Homo sapiens: one gene and its partners. The protein of the gene in region 3 interacts with the protein of the main gene of each other region in a pairwise test. Each region holds a gene or a part of one and is shown on either strand. Other genes may lie near its edges.

Region 1 (4,071 bases), on a different chromosome or scaffold from region 3:
TGGTGAGAGGATTTATGATTAACCTGCGTTGTGACAAGAAACGTCGTCTTGTAAATAAGTATTTCCAGAGGAGACAGATTTCAGATGAGGAACTTGGAGCCCAGTAGTAATACTAATGCACCTGGAACAACAGATTACATGGTAAGTGACAGGTGAATGCGGGGGCACCAATGTAACAGAATCTTAAAGGGAGAGAGGCCAGATTTGAAAGAAAATTTTTTTTTATTAAAGTGGAGATGGTGGTACAACTGAAGAGGACTGCTAAGATTGTTAACGCACAGTCCCCCTCAATTTGTCCAGAGGATAACATATCCCTTCAGATACAAAGATTTTTTTTTTTGCTTGGCCAACTTTAGTCAGGTTTCTGAATCTTCTGCTAGGCTCTTCTGTACACTTTCTTTGTAAAATCCAGTTTAAGCAAAGAACTTTGCTAAGTCAGATTAGCAATAAACCCCCATCCTTGATAGCTGATCATCCTCAATATCTGATCAGGTTCTTCAGTCTCCACCATCCCCCAGGTGATGCCTCATTATCTTGGCCTGTCTTCAGCAAAAATCCTATTAGGTGGGTTTAGCCAAAATCCCCCTTACCCTGATGTTTCCTCTTAGTAATTATACATTCACTTACCACCGCTCCTTGGCTATAAATCTCCACTTGCCCATGCTGTATGAGGAGTTGAGCCCAATATCTCTTTCCCTACTGCAAGTCTCCATTGCAGTCAGTGGTCCCTATACCTGTTGCGATGGTCCTGAATAAAGCCCTCTTTTTGTGCTTTAACAAGTGTCACTAAATACTTTTTTCTTTAACAATAGCCCGTTCTCCAAACCCCTAACTCCAGAACTGTTTAGTTTTCAGGAAACCTGAGTGGGCCCAGGGTCTATACCATCGTGAGATTTGTGGGTTTAAGGCTGAATTTCTGCCCGTTTTTAGGTAAATGTTTTAGTGTGAAAGCTTGAACAATTGTAGGGAAAACCTTAGATTTGCCCCCAAAAATGACATTTTGCCGTTTTTGGTGGGGAGGGGTCAGGGCGCTGTGTTTAAGATCAGGCGTGTGAAAGCCCCTAAACGCCCTCCTTTCCTTTGGGAAGTCCCTATGGAGGGAAAGGCAGGTAGGCGCAGCGGTCCCCGCCCTCGCTCGCGGCGGGGCGGGGCGGGGCTGCGGGGGCGGGGCTGGGGCCGCACGGGCAGCGAGGATCCCTGGGAGGGCCAGGCCTGCGCGCTGCGAACCCACGTGACTTTTTCGCCTCCAGGGACACTGACGCATGCGCATCGTGCCCTGGACCAGGCGGCCGTGGCGCGGGTGGCGGCTGCTGTGCTGGCTGTGGGGACGGAGGCGGTGAAGTGCCATCTTCGGCTAGGTCGTCACAGGCTCCGGCTCATGGCATCAAGTGGCATCCATCATAAGGTCTGCTGGGGCGGGCTCCTTGAAATTAGCTGGGGCAGAGGGTGGTACTTGGTACTGAAAGGGGCCTGCCGGGTTTCAGGCCGCGCTCTGGCCGCGGCCTCCCTCTCCCGCCCTGTTTGAGGCCTGGCTCGGATTCAGCGCTCAGCTGTCCATTCCTTTCTCCTTCCCACCTGTTGGGTGGAGCGGTGCAAGGTATTTTTTTCTTAGACCAAACGTTTCACTTGAGGGGTGCGTTAGGTAGGGTGGAGAAGTGTGGGCCTCCTTCGCCTGGATTTAGGAAGATATTTGGGGGTAATTCTAAAGCCCTTGCTTCTCCCGGAGCTGGAACACGGCTGGGGTGGCTGGAAGTGGAAGGAGCACATTTGCAGCCGCCAGAGGATTGGGAAGATAATATACGTTCTATTACTAAGGCATGTGAGCGCCTTGTAGGGCACGTTCTGTCTTCTGACTACATAAGCAACACTTTTGCGACCCTAAGTCACAGCACCCACAGCTTTTGGCAGGATACTTTAAAACAGAAAAAACACATCATTGATCCTGGCAGGATTTTTTAAGGGATTGTGCTTAAGAATGTTTAACTTTGGTAATCAGAGACCACCACTGGTGTTTTTCTCCAAAATCACATCTTTAAGTTAATTAATACTTGAAGTTAATAAATAATACTGCTCAGTGTATTAGTAATGATGCCATAATACCATGTGAATTTATGCTGATTCAAATGTTGTTTTTTTCGTTTGATACTCATATGGCCTTCTGTTTGAGGACTTCAGATTATTTAGCAACTGATTTAATCTGTTCAGAAATAAACTTTGCTACAGCTGGAAAGCGTGAGGCTTGAGAAAGCAAGTTTTGGACAGGGACGTATGAAGCTCATGTTGAAACTTAAGTGTTTTAGGCTGTATGGGAGCTTGAATGGAGTGAAAAGAACAAGCGTCTACTGTCAGGTTTTCCTCCTCCCTCTAGATTTATAACCTCATTCTAGAGTTGCAAAAGTTGGAACTTTCCACTGTTCACTCTCTAGTAGGGATAAAGTGATGGAAAGGAGTTCTGTTAAAGAGGACTAGTACTTAGATTGTGAACTTTGAAGTAGGGGTTGAGCATAGATGGCTCATAGGTGGTATGAGACACTATTTGTGTAAAGTCTCAGAATATTTTTCCTTGCTTATAATTGAATAAGAAAGAAGATGTTTAAAAGTCAAATGATAAAAATTGTATGTGCTGTTTTCTGTGGTATGTTTTAACAAATCTACATGGAAGATAGGACTTCAAAAAAAATTAAAAATAGCCGAAGGAGGAAGAAGGTAGTGTAGTTCCAGCCAAATGGTACGTTTTCCAAAAAGCCGAAGATTGATGTAGACGTTTATGTAAATACATATACAAAATCTAGTTTCTGGAACACAGTGTTTAATATGTAGAGACTTTAAAAAGTCGGCGTGTGACTACTTAGCCCTTAAAAACAGCTGCCAAAACCAGTGGTTATGATAGTCTCTTTTCTTCTTACATCCCAAATCTCCAGATTGCCTTGTGGATGAGATTTGCTTATTGCAAAGCTACTTGTTTTGCTCTACCCAAAACTCCTTTCAGTCTTTAGTGATGACTTCAGATTTTTATATATTGCTGTGTTTATGAAAAAGAATAGTCAATGGTATAATTTTTAAGTACCTCTACAGGAATAAGAGGCATACAGAAAAAAAAAAAAAGGTATTAGGTCAAAAGATGGCATTTCACTCTCGTTGCCCAGGCTGGAGTGCAATGGCGCTATTGGCTCACCGCAACCTCCGCCTCCCGGGTTCAAGTCATTCTTCTGCCTCAGCCTCCCCAGTAGCTGGGATTACAGATGCGCGCCACCACGCCTAATTTTTTGTATTTTTAGTAGAAACGGGGTTTCACCATGTTAGCCAGGCTGGTCTAGAACTCCTGACTTCAGGTGATCTGCCTGCCTCGGCCTCCCAAAGTGCTGAGATGACAGGCATGAGCCACCGTGCCCGGCCCAAATGTCCCATTTTTAATTAAGTGTTAGTAATTGAAGTCATCCTCCAAAAGACCTTTTAAATTTTAAGATGGCATAATTGTCACTGAAATACTTAATGTACGTCATAATTATACTAAAAGTGAAAGGTATGATAAATGTATTTTTTATATATTGCCTATTCACTTTATGTTATGTTTCATTTTATACTTGTGTCCTTTGTGCCTATCATATGATTTTATAATAAAGTGTAATGTAGTGAAAAGGAATCGACTGGTTTGGTGAGTTGAAAAAGGGAGGACTTTTATTAGTCTGGGGGAACAGCTTTTGTCAAGGCTCAGAAAGGAAAAATCTAAGGGACTCTGGAAATGGCAATGAGGAGGAGTATTGTAAGATTAATACTTTTGGAAAGTTAAGTTGAGACTGGATATATCATTCAGAGATATTTGTTGTGCTGTTACACGGCAAGTATTATTTCAGGTTCAAGGGGGACAGCGGTGAACAAAACTGATAAGGCCTCATTCTCACCCAATTTAATTTTTTTTTCCTTTTACTCTTGTTGAGCTGTGATCAGGAAATTTAATATTCGAGTAATATTAGTTTGCAGTAGTGCAGCAGTGTTTCTCAGTTTTTTTTTTTTTTTTTTTTTTTACTGCAGCCCACAATAAGATGTACATGGACATCACTAACTCAATAA
Region 2 (3,500 bases), on a different chromosome or scaffold from region 3:
ATTAAATTTTATTTTCATCATTCCTTTTAGGCAAAAAACGGAAACTGTAAAACAAGAAAATGCTGCAGTTCAGAAGATGGTTGAAAATTTAAAGAAACAGGTAAGGAAATACTTAATATTTCTCAATGTTTTTTGATTCCAAAATTTTCCCATTTTTTGAAATTTATAAATTTACAGCACACGGTAATGAATAGCATATAGCTAATGATGGTAAGGTTGTAAATTCTGAATTTGAAAATGGAAACTTACCTCATACTGACTCTAAACTAGCTTCCTGTTTTATGTTAAATAATGTATATATTATTCTAGGCCCTAAGTGCTTGATAAAGCTTTATCATCAGCAGAATTGAGGAGGTGATACCTCTAAAACCATACCTACGAAATATTAGCTGTAGCCCTTGTGCAGTTTCAGTTAATGTTAGCCCTTCCTTTTTCCTCACCATGATTGAAAGCAGAAAGTTAAGGGCAGAATTTCACATATACAGAATGCCAGCTAATCAGCATATCATTTCACAGAATTACATTTTATTCAGATAGCTGGTGCCATTCAGTGCTCAATTTGTATAATCTTACAACATGCAGTTATAAAAAGGGAAGGCCATTTAAGAATCTGTCTGAAGCAGTCAAAAGACAAGGACATATTGGGAAAGAGTATTTTCAGCACTTGAAATAGACAAGGTGTTAACATCCAAAATGTATTTTGGACTCTTACAAATAAATGGGAAAATCCAGTTGAAATATAGGCAATCTATATGAATGGTCAAGTCACAGAAAAAAAAAAGAATACAAAAGATGGTTAGCCTTATTAGTGATTAGAGAAGTGCAAATTCAATAAGCGTCTTTTTTTTAACCTATTGAATTAGCAAGAAGTAAAGATTGATATCTAGTATTTAAAAGGATGTGAGGAAATGACTGTGCCCATGCATTGTTGTTAGGATTATAAGGTGGTAGCACTGTGAGGAAGACATATTAGAGATATCTGTTGAAACAATAATGAATATATATCTATATACAGATCTTCTAACCCAGCAATCCTACTTCTAAAAAATAATTCTAAATACAAAATACTACCATGTATAAATGGATTTTCTAAAAGATCCATTTAAAAGAAATAATGATTTTAAAAACTTTATGTCTATCAACGTGGGAACAGATAAATGCATTATGGAATATCTTACTACATGGAATATCCTATAGCCAGTAAAAAGTAGTATGTGGTGGTTGCTGAACACACTGACTTGGAAAGAGTCTTTTTTCCTTTTGAGACGGAGTTTCGCTCTTGTTGCCCAGGCTGGAGTGCAATGGCGCAATCTCAGCTCACTGCAACTTCTGCCCCCTGGGTTCAAGCGATTCTCCTGTCTCAGCCTCCCAAATAGCTGGGATTACAGGCACATGCCACCACACCCGGCTAATTTTTGTATTTTTAGTAGAGATGGGGTTTCATCATATTGTTCAGGCTGGTCTCGAACTCCTGACCTCAGGTGATCCGCCTGTCTCGGCGTCCCAAAGTGCTGGGATTACAGGCGTGAGCCACCGTGCCCACCTGGAAAGAGTCTTTAAGTAAGTAAGTAGAAAAAGCAAGCTGTCCAAACATAAAATTTCCAAATTTTGCTAAAGAGAAGAAAAGAATCTGTATGTGTGTATGGGTTCTGTATATGCGTAGAAAATGATCTGGAGGGACACATATCCAGCTGTGGACAATGGGCTCCCCTGTAGAGTGGGGTCAGACTGAGTGTCTCACTTCTTCATACACTTGTGAATGGAATGAATTTGTAATAATGAGTGTGTATTATTTCTGTTTTGAAATATATATATATTTTAAACTTTATATAAAGAGGGAAAAGACAATTATGTCTCTAAATCTGTTTTTTTTTTTTTTTAGCACAAGTAGGGTAACAAGTTTGAAAAACTTATTTTAATTTTAATTAGATTTCAGAATTAAAAATCAAAAACCAACAATTGGATTTGGAAAATACAGAACTTAGCCAAAAGAACTCTCAAAACCAGGAAAAACTGCAAGAACTTAATCAACGTCTAACAGAAATGCTATGCCAGAAGGAAAAAGAGCCAGGAAACAGTGCATTGGAGGAACGGGAACAAGAGAAGTTTAATCTGAAAGAAGAACTGGAACGTTGTAAAGTGCAGGTATGGCCTGTAGCCACCTGACAGCTTTTTTTGAGGAAATCCCAAGAAATAGAAGAAATGTTTGTATTAAACTTCCTTAAACATAAAGCCTTAGTAATTAAAACAGTATGGTCCTGGCACATGAATAGATAAGTAGGTAAGTGGAATAGAAAGTCTAGAATTAGACCCAAATACAAATGGAAACGTAGTGTATAACCAGGGCCACTTCTCAAACCACTGGGGTAAAGATGGACTTTTAAATTAATGGTGCCTGAACAACTGAGTAGACATTCGGAAATAGATAAAATTAGACCTATGTTTCATTCCATGCACAAGGATAAACTTAATTGGATTAGGAGACTAAATATAAAAAAAAAAAACTATACAAATATTTGAAGAAAATACGGGTGAATTTGTCTTTAACCCTGGTGTAAAGAAAGGCTATTTAACTGTAACTCAAAAACCGGAGGCAATAAAAGAAAACACTGATTATATGTTAAAAAAAGTTTACTTGGCAAAAAGATACCATAAACAAAGTTAGAAGACAGCTGACAAACTAGGAGAAAATATTCACAACATATACCACAGTGAGAAGGCCTAATATCCCTGCTAGTAAAGAACTCTTAAAAATGGAGGGACATGGGACCAAAAATTTGATAGCAAAATGGGAGAAGCATACGAACAAATAAATCATATACAAAAGATAAAAATGGGCCAGGCGTGGTGTCTCACACCTGTAATCCCAGCACTTTGGGAGGCCGAGGCAGGAGAATAGCTTGAGCCTAGGAGTTCAAGACCAGCCTGGACAACATAACAAGACTCCATCTCTACAAAAAGTTTAAAAATTGGCTGGGTGTAGTGGCACACACCTGTGGTCCTAGCTACTCAGGAAGCTGAGGCAGGAGGATCCCTTGAGGCTGTACCACTACACTCTAGCCTGGGTGAGACCCTATCTCTAAATAATAAAATAAAATTATTAAAATGGCCCTCAAATCTATGGAAAAATGTTCAGAATCACTCAAAATTAGAGAAACGCAAATTAAAACAACACTTGTATAATTTCTCACCTATAAGACTGGCATCAATTTTAAAATATGACAGCATACTCTGTTGGCAAGGCTGTGGGGAAACAGACTCTTTCATGCTTTGCTGGGAGAATACAAACTGGTACCGCCTTTTTGTAGGTGAATTTGACAATACCTAACAAAATTACATATGTACCTAGCTTTTGCCCTGGAAATCTCACTTCTAGGAATCTACCCTAAAGATACCACCGCAACAATATGAAAACTCATATGCAGAGGGTTACTCACTGCAGCACTGTTTCTAATTGCAAAATGGTGGAAACAACATAGATGCTGATGTGTAGGAGAGTA
Region 3 (3,500 bases):
TTTTGATAAATATTTGCTAAGTGTCCAGGCCCTTAGCTGGACATTTGGGAATTTGGGTTAGTGTTAGACACTGTTATCTTGGAGGAGCTTATAGTCTAGTTGGGGCCATAGAAGGGTCAAGAGGCACTCACAGAGGCTAGTGCAGTGGTAGAAGTGAGGTCCAGGCACTGCGGGAGCCTTGCGGGGAGCTGGAGGAGGGAGCAGGTGCCCCTGCAGAGGGACCCACTAACCTGGAACTTGTGATCTGTTTTAGAGGGACCTGGGCAGACAGGGCCATGCCAGCTGTGATAGAATTATGGATGGGGTGGGGTACAGAGTAATTTCATCTGAGGATTCAGGAAGGACTCCAAGAAGCAATGGCGGTCAACGAATTCTTATAGAGTCCCTACTCCGTGCATTTGAGTAATATTAAATTCATTGTTGAACTATGAATAGATGTTTTGTAGCTTGTAAGAGGGGAATTTAATTCTAGGGGAGCTGAGGAAGGTGGTCTTTTGAAAATGTTCTATACCTGGAAAATGACTTATCTCTTCTTGAAAAGCTAGTTGAATGAGTCAGTGAATGCATTTTAGATTATATCTTAAAAGTAAGGACCTAAGCTTTTGGGTGGCTTAGTGAACATAGAATGGCTGATGTAATTTCTTTTTTTTTTGAGACAGAGTGTCTTTCTGTCACCCAGGCTGGAGTGCAGTGGTGCCATCTTGGCTCACTGCAACTTCCACCTCCTGGGTTCAAGCGATTCTCCTGCCTCAGCCTCCGAGTAGCTGGGACTACAGGTGTGCGCTACCATGCCTAGCCAATTTTTGTATTTTTAGTAGAGACGGGGTTTCACCATGTTGACTAGGCTGGTCTTGATCTCTTGACCTCATGATCTGCCCGCCTAGACCTCCCAAAGTGTTGGAGTTACAGGCATAAGCCACCGCCCCCAGCCGGCTGATGCAATTAAAAAAAAAAAAAACTGGCCAGGCATGGTGGCTCACGCCTGTAACCCCAACACTTTGGGAGGCCACGCCAGGAGGATCACTTGAGGCCAGGAGTTCGAGACCAGCCTGGTCAACATAGCGAGACTTCGTCACTAGAAAAAATTTAAAAAATTTTTTAAAAAGGAAAAAATATAACTTAGAGCCCCCTATGAAAAACTAAATTAGCATCATGACAGGATACACTTTGGGGAGTGAAATTTCACAGTACCTTTATTTAATTCCAAGCCATAGAGCCTGGTAATATTTTTCTCTTTATCAGCTGTGGCACTAAAATAACAGTGGATTTTTTCCCTCTAGACATTCTTCTTTTGGCCGATGAAAAATTTGACTTCGATCTTTCATTGTCTTCTTCGAGGTAAACAAATGAGTTTTCTTCCCTTGCCTTGGGCATAACCACATTCAGTAAAGTCTTTCCTTTAAATGCCAGTGTTATGAGTTATTAATCATTCTTTTTTTAAACAAATAGTGCAAATGAAGATGATGAAGTCTTCTTCGGACCCTTTGGACATAAAGAAAGATGTATTGCTGCCAGCTTGGAATTAAATAATCCGGTTCCCGAACAGCCTCCGTTGCCCACATCTGAGAGTCCCTTTGCCTGGAGCCCTCTGGCCGGGGAGAAGTTCGTGGAGGTGTACAAAGAAGCTCACTTACTGGCTTTACACATTGAGAGCAGCAGCCGGAACCAGGCAGCCCAAGCTGCCAAGCCTGAAGACCCTCGGAGCCAGGGCGTGGAAAGATTCATACAGGAGTCAAAATTAAAAATAAACCTCTTTGAGAAAGAAAAGGAAATGAAGAAAAGCCCCACGTCTCTTAAAAGGGAGACATACTACCTGTCAGACAGCCCCTTGCTGGGGCCCCCTGTGGGTGAGCCTCGGCTCTTGGCCTCCTCCCCGGCCCTGCCCAGCTCTGGTGCCCAGGCCCGCCTCACCCGGGCGCCGGGGCCTCCGCACTCTGCTCATGCTTTGCCCAGGGAATCATGCACTGCTCATGCTGCAAGTCAGGCAGCGACTCAGAGGAAGCCCGGGACCAAATTGCTGCTGCCTCGAGCGGCCTCTGTTAGAGGAAGAAGCATCCCTGGGGCTGCGGAGAAGGTAAATGCCACAGCAGAGCGCCTGCCTGGGGAGCCCCCACTCCTTGCCCCTCAGCCCTCTCACAGAAGCCACATGCGGAAAGCCTCAGAGGTGGCGAGTCTCTGAGGCCTACAAAACACAGGAATGCGGAGTCCAGGAAAAGCAGTTGCCAATAGGGAGCTGATGTGGGGGTGGCTTGGATAAGTTGGGTTGACCTAATATTTCCTCCTAAATTCTGTCTGAAGTTGTTCCTTTTGTTTTGTTACAATGCTGGATATACCACACAGTAGGGATTTCATTTGCTTTAATAAGCAACCTCTTCCAAAAACTCCCCTCCTCTGCAATGGCTGCTAGTCAGCCTCCTTGACCGTGCCTCAGTTTACACTGCATTCCTCCTGGGCACTGAGTGAGGTGAGCTTTCCTGGGAGGTGGCAGTTGACAGGGGTGCCTTTGGGTGCAGTCTGCCTACTCTGGGACACTGAGGGTCCTGGAGGTCTGGGGGAAAGCTGGGTGTGAGCACAGGACTTGCTGCCAGGGCTGCCCGATCTGGCTCTTGCTCGGGAGAGGCCACAGAGAGGAAGACGGGGCGGGTGGGAGCCCCGGGGCCCACCCTGCAGCCCGTTCCCAGCTCTGCCCCCTCCCCTGGGCAGCACGTACAGAGGAATGACCCTGGGTGGGGCTGATAGGAGGTGCAGGCAAATGCAGAATGCTCAGCAAGGGCCCAGAAATTCCTTTACCCCCACCAAGCCCATCTCCTGAGCCACATGACTCCCTGTGGTGAGAGCCAAGGATGGAAGGCAGCCGAGGTGCAGCCGCCACGCCACACACTGCCCTTGACAAGGAGGTATGCCCGGCACTGCCACCCCCAACAGCTGGGGCCTGCAAACTCCTTTATTTGGAGCCCGTTTGGGATGTAGATTCCTACCGTGATGTTTCTAGAATGAGAGTGGGATGGGTCCTGCTGTGTGGAGCACACGTGGACTCGGGACAGGGATTGTGCATGTAGCACGCGTGGACTCGGGGAGAGAGGTGGTGTGATTTGGGCTGCTCCAGACCCATCGAAGTATCTCTTTTGATCTCCTGGTCCTGGGTGGTGAGCTGGGGTCCAGAGAGCTTGTTCCCAGTGGACAGGGCACTGTCCGCACAGCTGAGATGCACTCATGCACACGTGGGAGCCCCACCATGTCCTGCATGTTTCTCTGGGAGAAGTCACTTCTAGAGTGGCTCATGGCACATGCTCACTCCTGTGAGGAGTCATTAGCAATGGGTGGACCACTTGAGTGTAACACCTACTTACAAGTGTGCTTGACAGAGAACTGCTAGGATGCCTAAAGGAAGAAGAAAAAGAAAATAACAGGTGTTATTTTGAGGATGAGGATGTTGTGGAGGATGAGGAGAAGGCTGAGGATGTGGAGAAGCTGGAAGCTCACGCATTGCTGGTGGGACT

The links.
Region 1: the proteins of GTSE1 (region 3) and PRPF39 interact in a two-hybrid assay, tested with the Homo sapiens proteins (one large-scale study listed by BioGRID).
Region 2: the proteins of GTSE1 (region 3) and NIN interact in a two-hybrid assay, tested with the Homo sapiens proteins (one large-scale study listed by BioGRID).

The regions. Positions count from the first base shown.
Region 1 is NC_000014.9:45,082,845-45,086,915, forward strand, and holds the start of PRPF39 (pre-mRNA-processing factor 39), read left to right. Parts: upstream 1-1,271; 5' UTR 1,272-1,405; intron 1,406-4,071. UniProt on the Homo sapiens protein: Involved in pre-mRNA splicing.
Region 2 is NC_000014.9:50,751,163-50,754,662, reverse strand, and holds part of NIN (ninein), read left to right. Parts: intron 1-30; coding exon 31-100; intron 101-1,929; coding exon 1,930-2,145; intron 2,146-3,500. UniProt on the Homo sapiens protein: Centrosomal protein required in the positioning and anchorage of the microtubule minus-end in epithelial cells. May also act as a centrosome maturation factor.
Region 3 is NC_000022.11:46,306,870-46,310,369, forward strand, and holds part of GTSE1 (G2 and S phase-expressed protein 1), read left to right. Parts: intron 1-1,280; coding exon 1,281-1,338; intron 1,339-1,449; coding exon 1,450-2,074; intron 2,075-3,500. UniProt on the Homo sapiens protein: May be involved in p53-induced cell cycle arrest in G2/M phase by interfering with microtubule rearrangements that are required to enter mitosis. Overexpression delays G2/M phase progression.